3 linked regions of the Homo sapiens genome follow. The protein of the gene in region 2 interacts with the protein of the main gene of each other region in a pairwise test. Each region holds a gene or a part of one and is shown on either strand. Other genes may lie near its edges.

What was found.
Region 1: the proteins of DEF6 (region 2) and EIF4ENIF1 interact in binary tests that used the Homo sapiens proteins (3 or more experiments, as listed by UniProt).
Region 3: the proteins of DEF6 (region 2) and CCDC88B interact in binary tests that used the Homo sapiens proteins (3 or more experiments, as listed by UniProt).

What each region holds. Positions count from the first base shown.
Region 1 is NC_000022.11:31,486,831-31,494,401, forward strand, and holds the start of EIF4ENIF1 (eukaryotic translation initiation factor 4E transporter), read right to left. Parts: upstream 3,013-7,571; 5' UTR 2,864-3,012; intron 2,727-2,863; exon of another isoform or gene 2,414-2,726; coding exon of another isoform or gene 2,318-2,413; intron 1,916-2,317; coding exon of another isoform or gene 1,889-1,915; coding exon 1,793-1,888; intron 1-1,792. UniProt on the Homo sapiens protein: EIF4E-binding protein that regulates translation and stability of mRNAs in processing bodies (P-bodies). Plays a key role in P-bodies to coordinate the storage of translationally inactive mRNAs in the cytoplasm and prevent their degradation.
Region 2 is NC_000006.12:35,307,799-35,314,817, reverse strand, and holds part of DEF6 (differentially expressed in FDCP 6 homolog), read right to left. Parts: intron 5,149-7,019; coding exon 5,008-5,148; intron 4,360-5,007; coding exon 4,174-4,359; intron 2,605-4,173; coding exon of another isoform or gene 2,517-2,604; coding exon 2,280-2,516; intron 2,193-2,279; coding exon 2,046-2,192; intron 1-2,045.
Region 3 is NC_000011.10:64,336,006-64,343,215, reverse strand, and holds the start of CCDC88B (coiled-coil domain-containing protein 88B), read right to left. Parts: upstream 3,013-7,210; 5' UTR 2,950-3,012; coding exon 2,890-2,949; intron 2,676-2,889; exon of another isoform or gene 2,610-2,675; coding exon 2,464-2,609; exon of another isoform or gene 2,424-2,463; intron 2,310-2,423; coding exon 2,198-2,309; intron 2,108-2,197; coding exon 2,038-2,107; intron 1,947-2,037; coding exon 1,888-1,946; intron 1,796-1,887; coding exon 1,712-1,795; intron 1,618-1,711; coding exon 1,474-1,617; intron 1,368-1,473; exon of another isoform or gene 1,312-1,367; intron 1,223-1,311; coding exon 1,077-1,222; intron 923-1,076; coding exon 841-922; intron 695-840; coding exon 536-694; intron 38-535; coding exon 1-37. UniProt on the Homo sapiens protein: Acts as a positive regulator of T-cell maturation and inflammatory function.

The sequences.
Region 1 (7,571 bases), on a different chromosome or scaffold from region 2:
AGCACTTTGGGAGGCCAAGGCGGGCAGATCACCTGAGGTTGGGAGTTCGAGACTAGCCTGACCAACATGGAGAAACCCCGTCTCTACTATAAAAAAAAAAAAAAAATCAGCTGGGCATGTTGACGCGTGCCTGTAATCCCAGCTACTCAGGAGGCTGAGGCAGGAGAATCACTTGAACTTAGGAGGCAGAGGTGGTGCCATTGCACTCCAGCCTGGGCAACAAGAGTAAAACTCCATCTCAAAAAAAAAAAAGTACTGGAAGATTTTCTTTTCCCTTCATTTGATGGCTTTTCTCCATTCAGAATTCACCTGTCAGCATTTTAGGAAATGAATTTAAGTTGTGAAACACTACTCAAACACTCTCAGGTTTGAGAGAAAATATATTTGGGAAGACCAAATCTGAATGTGGAAAAAGTTTTCTATCAACTTACATGCTGTCATACCAAAACAGATCATCCTAAGAGAGCAATCAACCAAGAACACTTTACACCTGAAAACATTTCTCTTACTGCAGTTCAGTTTCCTTCAGTGCTGAAAATGAGTATTAATCTGACAGTATTTGATACTTTATCAAGTAGGTAAGAGTAGTGCACCAGAACACAAACAAGAGCTGGCTTTAAAGCATTAACCAATCAGTATCCCAGGAAGCCAGGGACAATAAGCCATGTCAGAGTCAATGACTGAGGCCTGGCACAGTGGCTCACCCCTGTAATCCCAACACTTTGGGAGGCCAAGGTGGGCGGATTGCTTAAGCCCAGGAGTTTGCCTGGGCAACATGGCGAATTCCCATCTCTATAAAAAATACAAAAATTAGCCGAGCGTACTGGTGCACGCCTGTGGTCCCAGCTACTCAGGAGACTGAGATGGGAGGATGGCTTGAGCCCGGGAGGTCCAGGCTGCAGTGAGCCATGATTGCACCACTGCATTCCAGCCTCGGCGACAAAGTGACGCCCTGTCGGGTGCAAAAAAAAAAAAAAAAAAAAGAAAAATCCATACTAAGGAAATATATGGATGTGTGCCCAACTAGGATATAACCCTTCTTGTCATCAGTGGTCCCAACTGCTTCAACACTGTTGAGCAAGTTTTATGGGATCCAGCCTGACACATTTCAGGGACCCAGAAATGAATTTACAATTTGAGTCCTGTCAACCTCTTCAAAAACATTCAGTAGCCAACAAGACATGTACTGATGCAAGATCTTTAATAAATATGACTTCCTCTCTCTCCCAAAAGCAGTTATCTGGACAAGCAGTTTAAGCATCTCCAGTTTTTAGCTAGGGGAAATATGACTGAAGCCTTACTTTTTTGAGTCCATATCCAATTTGTAATAGAAAATAAAAAAACAGGATTGAAAAGCCAGTTACCCATGAAAAGCACACTCAAGAGCATTCCTATGGGGAGTCTGCCTCTTAAGGAAACATCAATACAGAGGACACTAACTTTGTAACGCATCCTAGGGCTTTAATCCTCACAGTACAGTATGTAAATCAATAAACGTACCAATTACATAGCTGTTACAGAACTTACAAAGTATACTGATCCGCAATTTTAAAAAAATCTAAGCCTACATTCCCTTCACCTAAAAGCCTCTCAAAGCAAATTCCAGCTTAAACGCTGGGTATCTACACTTGCAGAAAAATGTTCAAAGTAATGCACTACTAAATTTAGTTAATATTTAGTCCATGTAGTGAGTCAGAATGAGATTACCACTTAATAGGAATGAAATAGTTATACAATGTTACTAACTTCGCCACCTAAAAAGAAACACTATTTCATTAGTGGCAAACCTTACTTTTGTATAGCGATGGGGGCATTTGGAGGCAGGAGGCTTCTTCAGGTCAAGGAAAGCATCTCCACTTTCTGTTTCACCCATACTTCTCCTATCCATGGCTCCTTGGTCTACAATGCTCTGCACCTGGAAGATAAATCGGCACAAAATTGTCACCGAGAACAGTAAGTTTTCAGAAATCTTGGCTGTTTCTTCAGAAGCTGAAACTTTTTAATCTCTCAAAACAGCTAGTGTTAAAAACAAGTCCCCACCCCAAAATTATGCTATAAATTAGAACTTGGAGATAGAATCATTGGTACTCAGTTCTCTTTCCTAGTATCCTAAGCATCAACATGGTAAAAAGTAGAAGGTGCCCAATTCAAGGTATATAACCTTTAAGCAGCTTTAACACAAGAGAAACCAAGATTAGTAGCTGCCACCCATGGGGATCTTTCAAGACTGGTGGGGAAGTTTCCCGGAGTGGGGGCAGGTAGAAGACTGGTTAGGCTGGGAACCCGCGAAGTCTGTTGGAAAGTGCCTGTCACTTGCCAATGGACGGCGCCAGCTGCCCCTTGTTATCCGGCGATCAGGGACTGGGGACGGGGCCCGAGCGCCCCTCGCCAGGCCAGCCGCACCTGTGGCCATGTCAGGGGCGCCGATGGCAAGGAAAGGGCGAGCACCGGCTTCAGCTCCGAAACTTGGCTTCCCCGGGCCGCGACCCCAACCCGCAGCCCCTCACGCAGGCCCGGGCCCAGCGGCCTCCTTCGGAGGAAGGGCGGAGACCGTACTCACTGAGGGGCGGCCGGCCGCAGGGAGGAGGGAGGCCGAATCTCCCGGCCCGGGCGCTTCAAGCTGGAGCTAGCGCAGGCCCGCAGCCGTCCTCCCCGGCCCGGCGGCTCGGTCCCCGCCAGCCAGCCCGCCGGCTACCCGCCGGCCGCCTTGCGGGCCTCGCGCCCCTGCCCACCCCCTGCGGGCGCCCCGGCGCCCGCGCTCACGCACGCGACCCCGGGAGCAATGCGCCCGCGCCCCTTCTACACCCGGGAGCACCGGGCGCGCGGTGCCCCGGACCCAGCCGCCACCGCCGCCGACCCTTACTCGGTGCCTCCGCCGCTCGGCGGCCCTTTGCCTCGGCCGCCGCTCCCCTCCCCGCTGCCCGCACCGGTCCCAGCGCCGCTCCCCGCAGCCTTCGCTCTCGCGCCCCCACCCCGACCGGCTTGGGCTGTCTCTCTTCAGCCGCCGTAACTGCAGCCCGGCCCTCCGCCCCTCCTCTTCGGCCCCCTCCCCCTTAATAACTCCCTCCACGCACCCTGGCCCCGGCGCCGCCTTCCCCGCCGCGCGCCCGGATGTGAGGTGGCTGCAGCGGTGCCGGGCGAAAAAGAAGCATCGCCGCGCGCTTCCCGGACGCCAGCCCCTGCGCGGGCCGGGGGGTGGGAAGGTGGTGGCGGCGAGGAGGAGGCCACGGTGGGGATAGCGGAAACCCGCTCCCGTGCGCGCAGGCGGTCGCCGTGGGCAGCCCAGAGGCCACCGCCGCCGCGTTCCCACGCGCGCTGCAGGGCAGAGCGGACGGCACTTGGGACCCGCGACTCGCGGCACGCCACTCTCCCGGAGGCGGTGGCTAGATGGGGCTGGGCTGGCGGCTAGCACGGCCTGTGGCGCGACGACCGCTGTATTTGCATGGTTCGCATAGGCAGAGAACCGTGGGGCTTCGGCAGTGGGAATTTGAGATAGGAGATTGGGGTCTTCCGAGCCTTCCCAGTGCGGGTTCGAACCTCAGCTGTTTTGCGAGTGGCGTGATCTTAGGCAAAGCTGACTTAACCTAAGTTTCGGTCGTGTTTCTAAAATGGCCTCTGTAAATCTATGAGGCTTATGCGCGAGTACTGGTTGCTGCATTAAAAGACAAACTTGTCACGATTGGCTTTGATAGCGATAAAGGCGACTAACAAATTCATTGAAATGTTGTTTCCCTCCGGTAACCTGAATCTGTCCTTAGCCTGCACAGAAAGGGGAAGTGCGAGTGGAGTTGGGGAAATGAGACGGCGAATGTCAAGTGCTTACCACGTAGTGCAGACTCAGGCTGACAGGGGGCCACAGAAATGCAAATATGTGAGCAGTGTGGGTAACTGCATCCTGGGGAGGAAGTCCTATGTGCTGGAATACCACAAGCACCCATTTCTGCCCTGTGGTACTGCGCAGCGTTGGTGTGAAGCGATACATAGGCGTGAAGTCCCGAGAACGCAATTTTCCTGGTTAAAGGACAGCAACGTCTACATTTCTTCCAAGAGGCCTACTTTGTTGGAACTTCACTTCACTTGTGAAATTAGGGTGTTGGGCAGTGAGTGACCACTAACTCAGCTCCCTTCTTGTGAATCTTGGCAACAGAAAACTTTTCGTTTGTATTACTGAATAAAGTGTGTTTCTTACAAACTGTTTTTTTACAGGCAAGAGGCAGAGGGAAACACTTGCACATCAGGCCTGAGTTTGCATTCTCATCTCTGCCACCTCCTACAAGCTATGGAGAGTTAGTCTATTGATTCTTAGTTTTACCTGTGAAATTGCGAAGATGATATAACCTGCTCATGGGGCAGTTAAGATTAAACAGGATAAGGTGGGTAAAAAACCATATATAACCCATAAAGCTGCTGAGCCTTTTTAAGCCTATACAGAGACACGTTGCAGGTGATAATACAGATGTTATTATTTTAACAATCAAGCTGTTTTTGGAATCCAAATTCTTCCTAAAGCTGTGGGAAACAGGTCTAATCCCCTTTAGTGTCTTGGAGACTCCCTGGAGTAGTGGAGAAGGCCCGTTCTTTGAAGCTGCTAAATCCTGACCCTGCCAATTAGTGTGAAACCTGAGCCAGGCATTTCACCACCTGGATCTCCCTTTCCTCATTTTTCCGAAAGGGATCGCAGTATACCTACTTTTTAGGCTTGCAGAGGGAATTAAAGATAACATTAAAAACACTGCTCTGGTTATTTTATTTTGGGGGTGATGAAGTCTTGCTCTGTCATCCAGGCTGGAAAGCAATGGCACAATCATAGCTCACTGCTCCAGCCTCAGCCTCCCAAATAGCTGGGACTACAGGCTCCTGCCACTACAGCAGGCTAATTTTTAACGATTTTTTGCAGAGACGGGATCTTGCTATGTTGCTCAGGCTGGTCTCAAATTCCTGGCCTCAAGTGATCCTCCTGCCTCAGCCTCCAAAAGCACTGGGATTACAGGCATGAGCCACCACACCTGAGCTTTCTTGAAAAAGAAAATACTAGAAACCCGGAAATTATGGATTTCTGGTTACCTACTGTTACGTAACAAACCACCCCAGAATTCCAATTATATTTTGCTCTCAAATCTGCAAAATGGGCTGGTTCCTGCTGGGACGGCTGGTTTCTGATCCATTCAGCACCAGTGGGGGCAGCCCAAAGGCTGGGGCTGAGGGTCCCGTAAAAGCGTACATGTCTGGTGGTTGATGGTGGCTGTCAGCTAGGACCTGGGACCATTAGAGCTGTCCCTGGAACACTTACACATGGCCTCTCCCTGTGTCTGAGCTTCCTTGAAATATCAGGGCTGGATTCTAAGGGCAAGTGTTCAGAGAGCGAACAAGAAAGCCATATAGTTGCTGTATTGCCTTTCCTAACCTAGCCCTGGAATCAGTTCTACCACGTGCCACATTCTGTTCCTTAGAAAGGAGTCAGCACGGCTACCCTATATTCAAAGCAAAGGAACTTAGACTCCACCTCTATGTGGGAGGAATGTCAAGGAATGTGTAGGCATGTTTTAAACCACCACAAGCCATACATGATATCAGTGCCCAGGGCATTGTAGCTATCATGATTTGATAGCTGGAACTAATTTCCTGAGCCCTCTGGTCTATCCTACTTAGGACCTACTTTTCCACTAGGCTCCTTTAATGTCTTGTAGAACTTTGGCCTCAACTCATTTCTTACCTCTCAAAGTCTCACTCTGTCCTTATAGAAGAAGATGGTTATTACCTAGGAAAAAAGGTAATAATCTAAGGGAGGCTTCCCTAAACTTCTTTCACCTGTGCCTGGCAAAAGCTAGATGCTTACAAATTGCAAATTCTTGTTTCATTGTAGTTTTTGAGTGTTACTCTCCTTGGCAGGATAATTTTTATTTTTATTTTTTATTTTTTGAGAAGGAGTCTCGCTGTATCGCCCAGGCTGGAGTGCAATGGTGTGATCTTGGTTCACTGCAACCTCTGCCTCCCAGGTTCAAGTGATTCTCCTGCCTCAGCCTCCTGAGTAGCTGGGATTACAGGCGCATGCCACCACGCCCAGCTAATTTTTGTATTTTTAGTAGAGACAGGATTTCACCATGTTGGTCAGGCTGGTCTCAAACTCCTGACCTCATGATCCGCCCACCTCGGCCTCCCAAAGTGCTGGGATTACAGGCATGAGCTACCACGCCCGGCCTGATAATTTGTAATTTTTTTTTGAGACGGAGTCTCGCTCTGTCGTCCAGGCTGGAGTGCAGTAGCGTAATCTCGGCTCACTGCAAGCTCTGCCCCCTGGGTTCAGGCCATTCTGCCTCAGCCTCCCGAGTAGCTGGGACTACAGGCGCCCGCCACCACGCCCGGCTAAATTTTTTATTTTTAGTAGAGACAGGGTTTCACCACGTTAGCCAGGATGGTCTCGATCTCCTGACTTCATGATCCACCCGCCTTGGCCTCCCAAAGTGTTGTGATTACAGGTGTGAGCCACCGCGCCTGGCCTATAACTTGTAATTTTTTGAGACCAAGTTTTGCTCTGTCGCCCAGGCTAGAGTGCAGTGGCACAATCGGCTCACTCAACCTCTGCCTCCTGAGTTCAAGCAATTCTCATGCCTCAGCCTCCCAAGAAGCTGGGACTACAGGCCTGTGCCACCACACCTGGCTAACTTTTGTATTTTTAGTAGAGATGGGGTTTCACCATGTTGGCCAGGCTGGTCTGAACTCCTGACCTCACGTGATCCCCCAACCTTGGGTTCCGAAAGTGCTGGGTGTGAGCCATCGTGCCAGGCCAATAATTTGTAATTCTAAATGCCCCCTTCTGCAACTAATAACCAATTTTCAAGTATCAGCTTGGGAAAGCTCTTTGAGAGAGAAATTATTCTAGTTCTTTACTAAATATGTGTAAGATCTTGGTTTAGGTCTAAATTGTTGGCCCAAAGTTTGGCATAAGGGGTCTCAAAGGTTCAGTCAGTCGGGGAAATTAGCAGTCCAAGAACAGCAGAGAAGCAAATGAAAATACCAGAAACTGGCCGGACATGGTGGCTCATGCCTGTGATCCTAGCACTTTGGGAGGCTAAGGTGGGAGGATCACTTGAGATCAGGAATTCTAGACCAGCCTGGCCAACGTGACCAAACCCCGTCTCTACTAAAAATACAAAATTAGCTGGGCGTGGTAGCATATGCCTGTAATCCCAGCTACTTGGGTGGCTGAGCTAGGAAAATTGCTTGAACCTGAGAGGCGGAGGTTGCAGTGAGCCGAGATCGCGCCACTGCACTCCAGCCTGGGTGACAAAAGTGAAACTGTCTCAAAAAAAAAAAAAAAAGAAAAAAGAAAATACTAGAAACCCAGAAATTATGAGAGCACCTGTGAGAGAGTTTAATGCCAGGCCATGACCTTTCAGCAGCCTCATCACAGAAGGCTGGATTGCACCTCTCTAAATGGGCTTTTTCCTACTCAGTTTTTCTTGCTCCAAGAGTAACCCTTAGATTTTTTTTTTTTTCGAGACAGAGTCTCGCTCTGTCACCCAGGCTGGAGTGCAGTGGCAGGATCTTGGCTTACTGCAACCGCCCCCACC
Region 2 (7,019 bases):
TCAAAAGCATAGGCAACCAAACCAAAAATAGAAAAATGGGATTATGTCAAGCTAAAAAGCTTCAGGACAGCCATGGAAACAATCAACAAAGTGAAGAGACAACCCACAGAATAGGAGAAAATATTTGCAAAGTATCAATCTGACGAGGGATTAATAACCAGAATATATAAGGAGCTCAAACAACTCTGTAACAAAAAACCAAATAATCCAGTTTAAAAATGGGCAAAAGATCTGAATAGATATTTCTCAAAAGAAGACATACAAATGGTCAACAGAGATATGAAAAAATGCTCAATGTCACTAATCATCAGAGAAAAGCAAATCAAAATTAAATGAGATATCATTTCATCCCAGTTAAAATGGCTTTTTACAAAAAAAATAGAGAACATCTTTTTTTTTTTTTTTTTTTTGAGATAGAGTTTCACTCCTGTCACCCAGGCTGAAGTGCAATGGTGCAATCTTGACTCACTGCAACCTCCATCTCCAGGTTCAAGCGATTCTCCTGCCTCAGCCTCCTGAGTAGCTGGGATTACAGGCGCCCACCACCATGCCCGGCTGATTTTTGTATTTTTAGTAGAGATGGGGTCTCACCATGTTGGCCAGGCTGGTCTCAAACTCCCAACCTCAGGTGATCCACCAGCCTCGGCCTCCCAAAGTGCTGGGATTACAGGCATGAGCCACTGCGCCTGGCCAAGAATATCTTTTCTGTAAAAAGATGCTGGAGAAGACGTGGAGAAAGGGGAACCCTGATAAACTGTTAGTGGGAATATAAATTAGTACAGCTACTATGGAAAACTGTATGAAGGTTCCTCAAAAAACTAAAAATAGAACTATCATATGATCTAGAAGTTCCACTGCTGGGTATATATCTAAAAGAAAGTAAACCAATATATTGAAGAGATATCTGCCTTCCCATGTTTACTGCAGAGATATTCATAATGGCCAAAATATGAAATCAACCTAAGTGCCCAGAAGTGGATAAATAGATTAAGAAAATGTGATATATATAATATTATTCAGCCATAAAAAGAATGAAATCTTGTCATTTGCAACAACATAGATGGCACCATAGGTCATTTTGTTAAGTGAATAAGCCAAACACAGAAAAACAACTATCGCATGTTCTCACTTACATGTGGGAGCTAAAAAAGTGGATCACATGAAGATAGAGAGTATATTAGTGGTACCAGAGGCCAGGAAGTGTGGGGGGAGGACAAAGAGAGGTTGATGAATGGGTATAAACATACAGTTTGACAGGAAAAATAAGACCTAGGATTCAATAGATCAGTAGGGTGGCTACAGTTTACAATAATCTATTGTATATTTCAAAATAGAAGAGAATAATTTGAATGTTTCTAGCATAAAGAAATATTTGAGGTAAAGGATACCTAATGACATGATTTGATTTTTATAAAATATATGAATGTATTAAATTATCACATGTACCCTGAAAATATGTACATCTGTTATATATCAAAAGAATTTTTTAATTTCATGAATGTATTTAATGCCACTGAATTGTACGCTTAAAATAGTTAAAATGGGAAGTTTCATGTTACACACACATATATACATATTATTTAAAATAGTAAAGACGCTTGTGTTTTAAGCCTCTAAAATAGTGATGAACACAAGGGAGGAAACAGAAGGGGAAGACAGAGGAGAGGGGTATGGAAGGAGAATAGGGAAGTACAGAGTTGCTAAAGGGAATGGAATATGGGTGAAGAAGAAAAACCTTTAAAAGGGATTTTTAGAAAGATTTGCTGTGTAGTATAGATATAAGCCACTTCCTCTGAAATCTTGAGCAAATTCCATATTATTCACCAATTACTTTGGTGCTTGAGTTGCAGTTTTAGTTTTAAGTGCTGACGTGGATGAGAATGGCCTTGAGGCATCCGGATATATTTGGGTCACACTAATCTAAGCAGGAATTTGTGTCACTGTGGCTTTTCTCCATTTGCCCCTCTCCTGACCCCCTTGTCTTCTCATGCCCCTGAGGACACTCTGGGCCCTGAGATGTCCTCCACCCCCATCCTGCCCCTCACCTCCACGCAGCAGTGTGCATCCAGCGGGATAATGCCCCTTTTCTCTTTGCACTCTTCACTCCCAAAGTAGCAGAGGCAGCTGGGCTGCAGCTGGAACCAGCGTTCGGCCCAGTTCCTTCTCAGGTGCCCTCGCTTCCACAGGTAGCCCTGCCAGCCGGAGTTACGTCAGAGGCTTCCCAGGCCCCCCTTCGCCCTGCACCTTGTGTGCTTCCCCTAGTTCCCAGCTTGCCTGACCTGCTTCAGGACATCTTGGATGAGCTCCTGGTAGACCTCGTGGATGGCCATGCTGAGGGTGTCCCGGCCCACGCCCCGCAGGCAGCGGCCCGAATTGAAGAGCTCCAGGAACTGCCAGACGCTGAGCCCCCCGGTGGTCTGGGCCACCTGGGCCTCCTGGGCCAGAAGCTCCTCCAGCTCACCCAAGCTCACCTCCAAGCTCATGCTGCTGAGTACCTTTTTCAGCAGGTATTCCACCTGGAGCAGGAGAAGGAAGGCCTGGTAGCTGCAGCAGGTGGTGTTGCCAGCACCAACACCAGGGAGTGCTCTATCTGGCTCCCAGAGCCTGGGCAGAGGGAAACAGGGGACAGAGCGTTGAGGGGGCCAGAGGACCGAATGTTATGGAGCCAGGGAAAAGACCTGGGAGAGGATCCTGGAGCCCCAACCCCAACTCAGGTTTTCTCTCCCCGTCCACAACCTCCAGTCCCACTCCTTCCTGTCTTAAGGGCAAGGTGAAGGGGACCTGAGATCTGGGGTCCAGAAAGAGGCAATAAATCACAGAAAGTGTCAAGGGAGTGCAAAGGCCCTCTCATCCAATCACTCATTTTGCAGATGACCAAAAAAAAGCCCAAAGGGGGAAGTGACTGGCTCTAAGTCACACAGCAAACTGGGGGCAGCCAGAACCCGATTCTGATCTCCTGAATCCCATTCAGGTCCTTATTCCAAGCCCCAATCCCCAACCCTGGGGATCTTTCCCTTGTGGGAGAGGAAGGGGATTTGGGGTAGGGGTAGGCGTTGGGGAGTGGGGAGTAGAGGTAAGCTGGGCAGGGACAGGAAACCTGTTACAGAGGAACCGGAAGTGGTGGCTGGGGTACATCCTGCTGCAGTTGTTAACTCTGTATGTTGATCGCAGAAGCAAACAACCTCCTGGCCTCCGAGGCCACCTTGCCCTGACTGGCAGGGGTCTAACAAGGGCAGCCAGCCAAGTGTATGTGCAGATGGACACATGTCCCTCACCTGCCCCAGCAGCTTTTTGGGACACTCTGTTTAGGACTTTCTGGGGGATCCTGGGTCTTGTTTGGGTGTTTAGTAGAGGGCACTGGTTCAGGGCTCGGGTGGTTCCCTTCATCACCCTTCCCACAAACAGAAGCCAGGACAAATGTGAGTGGAGCTTGACATGCTAGGGCTTCTTGTAAGTACAGAAGCCCCCTCTCCTGTAAACCCCACTCTAAAGACCTAAAGTCACCCTGGCATCTCCACAGCCACCAAGAGGACTAAAGGGTCACAAGGCCAAATGGGCAGGGGAGGGAAGTGAGGATAAGAGGGAGGGTACAGGTGGATGGGAAAATGCCTTCCCTGGCTTCACCCAGGAGTAAGGAGATAGGGACCAGATTCCCAGCCTTTTCTCCCAGGATGCCCTATCCCTGGGTCTCTTAGCTGAGTTTGTCCTGGCTTTCCAGAAGAAAGGCAGAAAGGGAAAATCTGGAACCAGAGTAACCTCCTGTCTCAGAAAGGTCTCCCCTTGCCTTGTAAAGCATCCTTCCTGTCCTGGAAGAAGTGGCAAAAGGTAAAGGAAAAAAAAGCACCCTTCCTAGATTGCCAGTAATGCTCAGTAATGTATCTGGCATTTAGACCTCTGTGTAAACAGAATTTGCAGATCATTTTCCTACAGTGAGGACCAGCAGAACCCTCATGAAAGTGTAATTTCAGTTTTCCTGGAAGAAGGCAAAATTACTCTGACACAGGCAGTTCTAGGCATCTGGAGACAGCTGGGTGAGGACAGATACCAGCATGGGAAGATGGTAAAGAAAGAAAGGGGATATGGGAAGGCACCAAAGGTGGTTTGGTCTCATTCATGGTTTTGCTTAGGTCTGGTCCCAAGTGATTCAGTCCCTGGGGCTGCCATCACCCTCACCTCATCAGGAACCATGATCAGAGGGTACTTGTCCTCAGACAGGAAGTTGAAGAGGCACCAGAGGCGGAAGGCATCCTGATTGGAGAGCATACTGTTCCCGTTGCTATCTGCCCGATAGTTCTTCTTGGCCGTCAGCGTCCAGCACAGCTCATCAAAGTGCTCTTTAACAAAAGCCCCCTCCTCCACCTGCCACCAGGGCTGCAAATCAGCTGACTGCATATCTCAGCTCTACCACGACACTAGGCTCCAGCTGGGTTTCTTGGGTTCATCTATGCCCCTGCTCCCCACCTGGCCAAGTCCAGGGCCCTAACTCAAGGGATCCCTGAGCTGATTACCAGGTAACTAGCTGGTTCCAACCACTCCACCCTCCACAACACACCCACACCCACCCAGGCCCCCTGACAACAGATTAACTCTAGTCTTTCAGCCCAGAGGACAAAGAAGGAGAAACCCAGCAGGAAGCTAAGAGCCAAGAACCTGGAAACACAGTGACAGATTGGAGGAGTTGGAGGGGGAGTTCAGGGGGACAGTCTGGGAAGGGTGGAGAACCCTGGAAGCTGGAGGAGGGCCGGGCAGGGATTCGGTGGAAGGTTATGGGTAGGGTGGGGCCCACCTCATTAGAGATGAGGGACATTGAAGGTGAATTGAGGGGGACAGGAAGGGGGCAGGTGGCTGGGATGTGAGGGACGTGATGGGACAGCAGTCACGGACAGAGCAGGCAGAAGTAGGAGTTTATGGCAGGGGCGAAGAGTTGGAGTGGCAAGGTATTAGGCTGCTGGCCAGGCTGGAAAAGTGGGGAGAGGTTACAGATGCTCCCTACAAGCTGGGCCCCACCTTGTCCAGGATGTACTTGTTGAGGTAGGGCATGTATCCCTGGCTGGACACAGGGCCGTCATCATCATCTCGGAAGTGTTCCTCCAGGGCCACGGGGTCATGGGGGATGTGCAGGACCGTGTACAGGTTGTGGGACAGCACCTGGGATAGAGTAGAGTGGCAGTGTGTCTTTCTGCACCCCAACCAAAACTGGGCCAGAGGACTGCTCCCCACCTCTCTGCTTGTCCTCACCCCATCCTGGCTGAGTTCTCTACACACACTGTTCAGTTCAGTAATAACTAAAACTTATATACTATGTGCCAAGCACTGAGCTAAAGTACTTTACATATCATTTGCTTAACCACCATAACAACTACTCATATACCCATTTTACAAATGAAAACTCCTGCAGCCCTGAGATATTTCTCACCCAAGGTCACAGCTGGCAGAACTGGAATTCAAACCCATGCAGTTATACTCTTAGCCACTTCATTAGGTATTGGTGTCCTCTTTCTACAGACAGGGAGACTGAGGCTCAAGGGATTCAGTAACTTGCCAAAAGACCCACACTGAACAAGAGCTTGGAGTTCAAATCCATCTCCATCAGATTCCAAAGCCCAAGTGCTTCCCACAATGCTAGACAGTTTGCAGGGTTTGCAGGGACTTAGTCTGCCACCCCAGGGCAGAAGCTGCCAATTTATCATGGTTTCCATCAAAGACTCAGTGTCCTGGCTGCAGTGTGCCTATCACCTAAGCGTGTCTGCTCTGGGAGAGGAGAGGGCTCAAAGAAGGGTCATGAAAAATGGTCCATGACATGGAGAGGGCAAGGCTTAGAAGGGATAGTGGTCATAATGGTGTGCAGGGGAAATGTGGGTTTGTTGAACAAATCCATGATATTAGAATAAAGGGGTTGAAATCTGAAATCTGGTGAAAATAAAATCTCCTTGGGGTAATTCTATTATAGCATTTGTCACAAGCAGTGTAAATGATTAAAAAGTCACTAGTTACTATTGCACACTTACCATATGCCGGTCACTGTAGGAGGTGGTTTATTTAATTAAAACTGTTTTTTATTTTATTTTATTTTATTTTATTATTTTATTTATTTTATTTTATTTTATTTTATTTTATTTTATTTTATTTTATTTTATTTTATTTTGAGACGGAGTCTTACTCTGTCACCCAGGTTGGAGTGCAGTGGCATGATCTCAGCTCACTACAACCTCCACCTCCTGGGTTCAAGTGATTCCCCTGCCTCAGCATCCTAAGTAGCTGGGATTACAGGCACCCACCATCACATTCAGCTAATTTTTGTATTTTTAGTAGAGACAGGGTTTCACCATGTTGGCCAGGCTGGCCTCGAACTCCTGTCCTCAGGCGATCCGCCCACCTCGGCCTCCCAAAGTGCTGGGATTACAGGCCTGAGGCACCATGCCCGGCCAAAACTTTTTTTTTTTTTTTCGGTAGAGACAGAGGTCTGCATATGTTGCCCAGGCTGGCCTTGAACTGCTGGCCTCAAGTGATCCTCACATCTGGACCTTCCAAAGTGCTGGGATTTCAGGCATGAGCCACTACACCCAGTCAAAGCGCTTTTTATACCCCATTTCTAGTCTTCACAATCACCTATATACGCAAATATTATTAAGCCTGTTTTTCAGGTGAAGACACAGAGGTTTGGAAATTTTAAGAGTAAATGGCAGAGCTGAGGTTGAAACTAAATGTGCCTGGTTCACAGGTTGCCTTCCTACTAGAATACTGATGTCAAGTCTCCCTCCTCCGTTGGATTGTGAACTCTGGAGACAAGGTCTCTGTTCATCTTTATGTCCCTCAGCATCTATGTCCTCTTTTGTACATCAAGTGCAATCAATACATGCTATATTGAAGGGCTTCTTCCACCACCAGCAGTTCACCTTGGAATCAGTTCCTAGGAGGCAGGAGCTAGCACTGTCTCGGAGATGGTGTGTGTGCCAAGCCTTCATTTTATTCTCTTTTCAGAGAGGAGGGGGAGAAAGTATTGAGACTTTGCCTCAGTG
Region 3 (7,210 bases), on a different chromosome or scaffold from region 2:
TGGACGCCTCCAGCACCCCCGAGAGCACCCGCTCCTCCTGGTGGGAGAGCAGGGAGAACCGGTAGCCACGCAGCCCCCATGCACTCCAGCGCCTGAGGGTCCCAAACTCCTTCCCCTCAGCCTGTCACAGACCCTGCCTCCCTCCCCCACCCTGCACCCCATCAGTCTCTAGGCCCCGCCACTCCCTTCCATCTTCTTCCCACCAAGATCTCTTCAGGTACTTTCTCCCTCGCCCCTGGCCCCGCCCTTTGTGCAGGCCCCGCCCTTCTGTCCATGCCCCGCCCCTCCCCCCCGGGAACAGCCCTCCTTCCAAGGCTGCATCACTTACACAGCCCCCCCACTCCCCTACACCTGCCCCATCCTCTGGAGGCCCTTTCCCAGACGCCACCTCCCTGAATTTGTCCTCACCCATTTCTCCACCTGTGACTGTCCCCTCCAGAGAACCTGCCTCTCTGCCCTCGGGACCCAATCTCGCCCCTCCTCCTGGCCCGCCCCCTCGCGCACGCCCCGCCCCGCGGCTCCGTCTCCGCCTCACCTCCAGCTGACTCTTGTAGGCCTCAGCCGCCTGCAGCCGCTCGCGGCAGCGCCTCAGCTCCTCCTGCAGGCGGGGCAGGCGGCCGGCCCGCTCCCGCAGCGCCTCTGCCTCCTCGCGGTACAGCTCGGCCCGCTTGGCCTGTCCCGACAGCGCCTGGGCCTGGGCCAGACGGTGTGGAGCTGGGAACAGCCAGCCGCGGGCCAGAGGGATTAGGGACGGGAAGGAGCCGGGTTGGGAGGGAGGCAATGGGACCGGGTGCGGGGAGGTTAGGGAATGCCGCGGTGGCGGGGAGCATGTGAGCGCACCTCCTGGCGGAGCCTTCTTATTTCGGCCTCCAAACCCTGCACCTCGGCCTGGGAGTCTAGCAGCAGCTCGGCCTTCTCCTCCCTGGAGGGAAGGGGAGTCTAGGGAGGGTCTGGGGGCCCACAACCCCCAGCCCTTCCCAGGCCTGACCCCTCCCGTAGCCACCAGGGCTAGGGTCCCATCCAGGCTTAATCTGCCCCTCTCCACTCAGTCCCCTTCCCAGGCTGCGCACACTCACAGCTCCTGCCGCAGACGCCGCAGCTGAGCCTTGGCGTTGGCCAGCTGCAGGGCCAGATGGTGCGAGGGGCCCTCGGCGGGAGCCCTAGAGGGAGCCTCAGGCCTCAAGCAGAGGGGTTCTCGCTCCAGCAGCAGTTCAGCCAGCCGCTGTAGGTCAGGGGTCAAGGGTCAGGACTAACTTATCCAATGCCTCTGCACATCGACCCCCAACCACAACACCAGACATGGGGTTGTGGTCTGGGGTCTTGGGCCATCTGGTTGTGACATCACTGATGGCCCAAGACCTCAGACCACAACCCCATGCCTGGGCCCCAAACTTCCATCTCCCTTGCACAACCGGCTCCCTGATGGTCCTCCAGTTCCCCAACCTGAGTCCACGATGCCCCTGCTGCCCCTACCTGGGCCCCCAGGTCACGCTCCCGTGCCAGCTTCGACAGTGTCCCCATCAGGCTCCGGGACAGCATCTCCAGCTCGGCAGGTGCCAGCTCCCCAGGATCTGGCCCAGACAGTGCCAGCACCACGCCGGCCCCCGGCTGGGTCACCTGGGGCGCAGGAAGAGCAGTTCAGTGGAAGCCGCGGTGTGGCAAGGGCGTCCCAGGTGCCATACCAGTCTGGGCTGCCGAACCGTCTCAGTACCTCCTGGATGGCAGCGGCCAGCTCGCTCTGGACCTCGAGACTGAGGCCCTGGATGTGGCGGATGAAGAGTTCCCGGTGCTCACACTGAGGGGAGACAGGAAGGGGAGCTGGTGCAGGATCTCCCTCCTCTACCGCCAAAGCTCGACCCTAACCTTTCCTTCCCACCGCCGGCTCACCTGTACTGACGCTCCCAACAGTAGCCGAAGAACGCCTTCCAGCTGCTCCACCGCTTCTTCTGCAAGGCACATGCCACAAGGGGTTAACTGGGGCGGGGAAGGTAGAGTAGTGCGGGGGCAGAGGCAGGAGGGTGTGGGTGGGGAGAGCACCTGAGAGAGGGTCAAATCCCAATGTCTGGAGGTCTGGGGGTGGCGACAGGATCAGCAGCTGCAGCTCCTCCTGGAGGCAGAGAGGCAGACTATATGAGGCGCCTTCCCGAAGGGGCTCCTCTTCCCCTCCTGTCTCCGCCTTTCCCTCGAGACCCCTTACCTGGTAGAAGTCCCTCAGTCGGCCCCACAGGTGGTTCAGGTTCCACACTCGCCAGGCAGCAGGTCCGTCAAGGCCTCTGAGCATCCGAGGTCCCCCTCGGGAGCTGGGGGCACTATGAGCCGGAGGTGGGCTCGAGGACCCGCCTCCCGTCAACAGGCCTCGCCCACCGTCCCTCAGGCCCCGCCCACTGAGCATCAGGCTCCGCCCACCCGCTTCCCCTCCTCTCAGATCCTTCCCCGCCACCGCCCCGGCCCGATGCCCCTTACATGATGCCCAGCACCCGGAGGAGCAGGGCCCCATCGCTGAGGCGCAGGAATCTCTTCTCCAACCAAAGGGGCGGCTCTTCCTCCTCTTCCTCTTCTTCCCCCTCCGAGTCCTCCGCCTCCCCGACCAGCCCGGCCAGTCCCAGCGCCTGTGAGGAGCCCAGAGGGGTCAGCCGACCAGCAGAGTGAACCCTGAGCCCCTCCGACCTGCCCCAGTGAGCCCAAGCACCCCTTCTCACCCGTCCTCTGAGTGCCTCTGTCCCCTCTTCCCTCACCACAGCCCCCCACACCATATCTCCATCCCCCACATTTGAACCCAGCCCTCCCCTCCGGCCTGGTTCTGCCTCACCCTCCCCCGGCCAGCGCCAACACCAGCCCCTGGCTGGGGCTCACTTCCCCTCCCCAACCCGCTGCCACCTGCCCCCTCACCCAGGTAGCCAGACTCCCACTCAGGAAGTCTCTGAGCCTGGGCCCCTTGCCCCCCTCCATGCCCGGGTCGGGGTGCCCGTCTCACTGTGGCAGCTGCACCTGCCCTGAGAGGAAGAGGAAGTCCCCGAGTGGGGGATCCCGGGGCCAGCCACAGACACCCTGTGCAGCTTCCTCCTTCCGGGTGCAGGCGGGCCTGGGCAGTCTGAGTCCTACCTCAGCCCCCACCTCACCTCCCTGCATCCTCCTAGCATCTCTGCAGGGCTAGCCCAGAGGTTGGCGGCGGAAGGCCCACAGCTCCCCTGGCTCCATGGGCAATGACCGAACAGCCCTTCACCTCTCTGGGCCTTGTTTTCTCAAACTGAAACTGGAGAGGATGACCCCAGCCTGGGACCTTCGAGGGCCTCAAAAGGGCTCTGGGCCTTGCGTGGTGAGTTTGGTCACCCACACACCCATCTTCCCAAATGCCAGGCTTCACTCACTACAGCGTTCTTTCTTTTCCCTTCAGTATTTCTCAAAGTTACCCAAACCACATCCCCTGGGAAGCCTGGTTCAGATGCTCCTCCAAGAAGCCTCCCTTGAACCCCAGATAGAAGGGAGCATCATTCCTGTGACCTCACCCCACCCCATCCTCTATACACTCGAGACTGTTGTAGCCATACTAGGTGCTATGAAGGGGAGGGGATTTGACCTCGGCAGGATGATCAGGGAAGGCATCCTGGAGTACGCATGAGATCAGGGATGGCTGGGTTAACAGGGCAAAGTGGAAAGGAAGGGAGGGTATTCCAGGCAGCAGGAACAGAATGTGCAACTGCTCTGAGGCAGCTGGAAGCATGGTCAGCAAAAAGATTGGAAATTATGCATGTTTTATCTATTCCAAGATGCTTAATGTTCACGTTTCACTTTTTGTTTTGTTTTGTTTTTAAGAGACAGAGTCTGAATCTGTGACCTAGTCTGGAGTGCAGTTGCAAGATCACAACTCGCTGCAACTTCAACCTCCTGGGCTTAAGCAATTCTCCTACTTCAGCCTTCTGAGTAACTGGGACTACGGGTGTGTGCCACCACACCTGGCTAATTATTTTGCTTGTTTTTTGTACAGACAGAGTCTTGCTGTGTTGCCCGGGCTGGTCTCGAACTCCTGGGCTCAAGTGATCCTCCCGCCTTGGCCTCCTGAAGGGCTGAGATGACGGCATGAGCTGCCTCACGCAGCCCCCATTCTACACCTCTGAAGTGAGTTTACATGGTACAGTTGCTGTCTGGCTAGCTGCCGTCCCAACATCACTGTCAGGACCCACACCTGAAAAGCACCAGCATCAAATCCTTCAGAAGAGTGTCAGCAGCTTGGAAGAAATCCTAGAGGCAAGCAGAACCCTTTTTAGCCCTGGGACTCAAATGGTGGGAAACCCCAGGGGAAGGGAACCAGGCTTGTCAGTGACACTCCCTTTTTTTTTTTTTTTTTTTTTTTGGTGAGACGGAGTCTCGCTGTGTCTGTCGCCTAGGCTGGAGTGTAATGGTGCAATTTCGGGTCACTGCAACCTCCGTCTCCCGGGTTCAAGCAATTCTCCTGCCTCAGCCACCTGAGTAGCTGGGATTATAGGCACCTGCCACCACGCCCAGATGCTTTTTTGTGTTTTTAGTAGAGACAGGGTTTCACCATGTTGGCCAGGCTGGTCTCGAACTCCTGACCTCAGGCAATCCACCCACCTCGGCCTCTGAAAGTGCTGGGATTACAGGTGTGAGCCACCACGCCCGGCCTGTCAGTGACACTCCTAGAGCAGAGTGAAAACTCGGCTCCACTTCATCTGCACAATTGTAAAGCTGGCTTAAGAGCGCCTGGCTGTTTTATGGAATGTTTGGAGCAGTACTGCTCTCCGTAGAACTCTCAAGGACTCAGAGAAGGAGGTGGCAGGCAGACACAGACATCACGACTCTCAGACCAAAAATGATTCAAACAAGTTGGACTCTAAATGTGAAGGAGTTTTCTGAACATGGTAACCAATTTATTTTGCTTCTATTATCCTTTTTATGTGTGCATGAGAATTATATATGATAAGAATCTACATTTAAGTGAAACAGAGCTCTTTCGAGAAATACAAAAGAAAAATTCTAGTGATGAAAGAACCTTGGGACATCGTTAACTGGCAGCATTCTCTTTTCTTAGTGACATTTTTATAATCGATGACATCTTAGTTTTTTTTTGTTTTTTGTTTTGAGACAGGATCTCTGTCACCCAGGCTGGAGTGCAGTGATGCAATCACAACACACTGTAGCCTCAACTTCCCTGGCTCAAGGGATCCTCCCACCTCAGCCTCCTCAGTATCTGGGACCACAGACATCCACCATCCACCCAACTAATTTTTGTATTTTTTGTAAAGATGGGGTTTCACCATGTTGCCCAGGCTGGTCTTGAACTCCTGATCTCAAGCAATCCGCTTGCCTTGACCTCCCAAAGTGCTGGGATTACAGGCGTGCACCACTACATCTGGCCAACATCTTAGATTTGATGAAATATGGCGTAATAATGACATCATAGCAAACACGGGCTTCCCTTGAGCTAGGCATGGTTGTAAGTGCTTTACACTTACTAACGTGTTGGCTCTGGACTAGTCTGTGAAATAAGGACTATGGATTATCTCCATTTTATAGAGGAGGGAACAGAGAGGTTAAGTAATTTGCCTAAGGTCACACAGCTTTTAAGTGGCAGAGCCAACTAAAAGAAGGCAGTGGGGCAAGAGTGCAAGGAGCAAGGGGCACCCATAGTCAAGGTGAGCTGGGCTTGACCAGGCCACAGGAAGCCATGCAGGATTGGTAGCAGAGGAGCACAGCCAGCTGTTCAGCCCTTTTGAAATACCTCTGGAAATGGGAGTGATCCTCTCATTGTTGCCAGAATTCCAGGCCTTGATGCCCAGCACAAGCCTTCATTAAATGTCCCTGGGGTGATTATTATTATTATTATTATTATTTTTGAGACAGAGTCTCGCCCTATCACCTACGCTGGAGTGTGGTGGAGCAATCTCGGCTCACTGCAGCCTCTATCTCCTGGGTTCAAGCGGTTCTTCTGCCTCAGCTCCCTACAGAGCTGGGATTACAGGCATGCGCTGCCATGCCTGACTAATTTTTCTATTTTTTTTAGTAGAGATGGGGTTTCACCATGTTGGCCAGGCTGGTCTCAAACTCCCGACCTTAGGTGATCTGCCCACCTCAGCCTCCCAAAGTGCTGGGATTACAGGTGTGAGCCACCACACCCAACCTGATTATTATCTTTAGTATTAATAATATCAAGGATCAAGGCCGGGCACGGTGGCTCACGCCCGTAATCCCAGCACTTTGGGAGGCTGAGGCGGGCGGATCACCTGAGGTCCGGAGTTCGAGACCAGCCTGACCAACATGGAGAAACCCCATCTCTACTAAAAATACAAAATTAGCCAGCCACGGTGGCTCACACCTGTCATCCCAGCTACTCGGGAGGCTGAGGCAGGAGAATCGCTTGAACCCAGGAGGCGGAGGTTGCGGTGAGCCGAAATCGCACCACTGCAATCCAGCCTGGACAACAAAAGGGAAACTCCATCTCAAAAAAAAAAAGAAAAGAGAGAAAGAGATCATGTCCTTCGTGGGACATGGATGGAGCTGGAGGCCATTATTCTTAGCAAACTAATGCAGGAACAGGAAACCAAACACCGCATGTTGTCCCTCATAAGTGGGAGTTAAATGATGAGAACACACGGACACAAAGAGGGGAACAACAGACACTGGGGCCTACTTGAGGGTGGAGGGTGGGAGGAGGGAGAGGAGCAGGAAAAATAACTATTGGATACTGGGCTTAATACCTGGGTGACAAAATAATCTGTACAACAAACCCCCGTGGCATGAGTTTACCATATAACAAAGCTGCATGTGTACCCCTGAACCTAAAATGTAAGTTTTTTTAAAATTCTATACCTGGCCAGGCACAGTGGCTCACGCCTGTAATCCCTGCACTTTGGGAGGCCGAGGTGGGTGGATCACCTGAGGTCAGGAGTTTGAGACCAGCCTGGCCAATATGGTGAAACCCTGTCTCTACTAAAAATACAAAAATTAGCCAGGCATGGTGGTGATGGATGCCTGTAGTCACTGGGGAGGCTGAGGCATGAGAATTGCTTGAACCCAGAGACGGTGACTGCAGTGAGCCGAGATCGGGCCACTACACTCCAGCCTGGGGGACAACAGCAAAACTCCGATATATATATATATATGTGTGTGTGTGTGTGTGTGTGTGTGTGTGTGTGTGTGTGTGTGTGTATGTATATATGTGTGTGTGTATATATATGTGTGTATATATGTATAT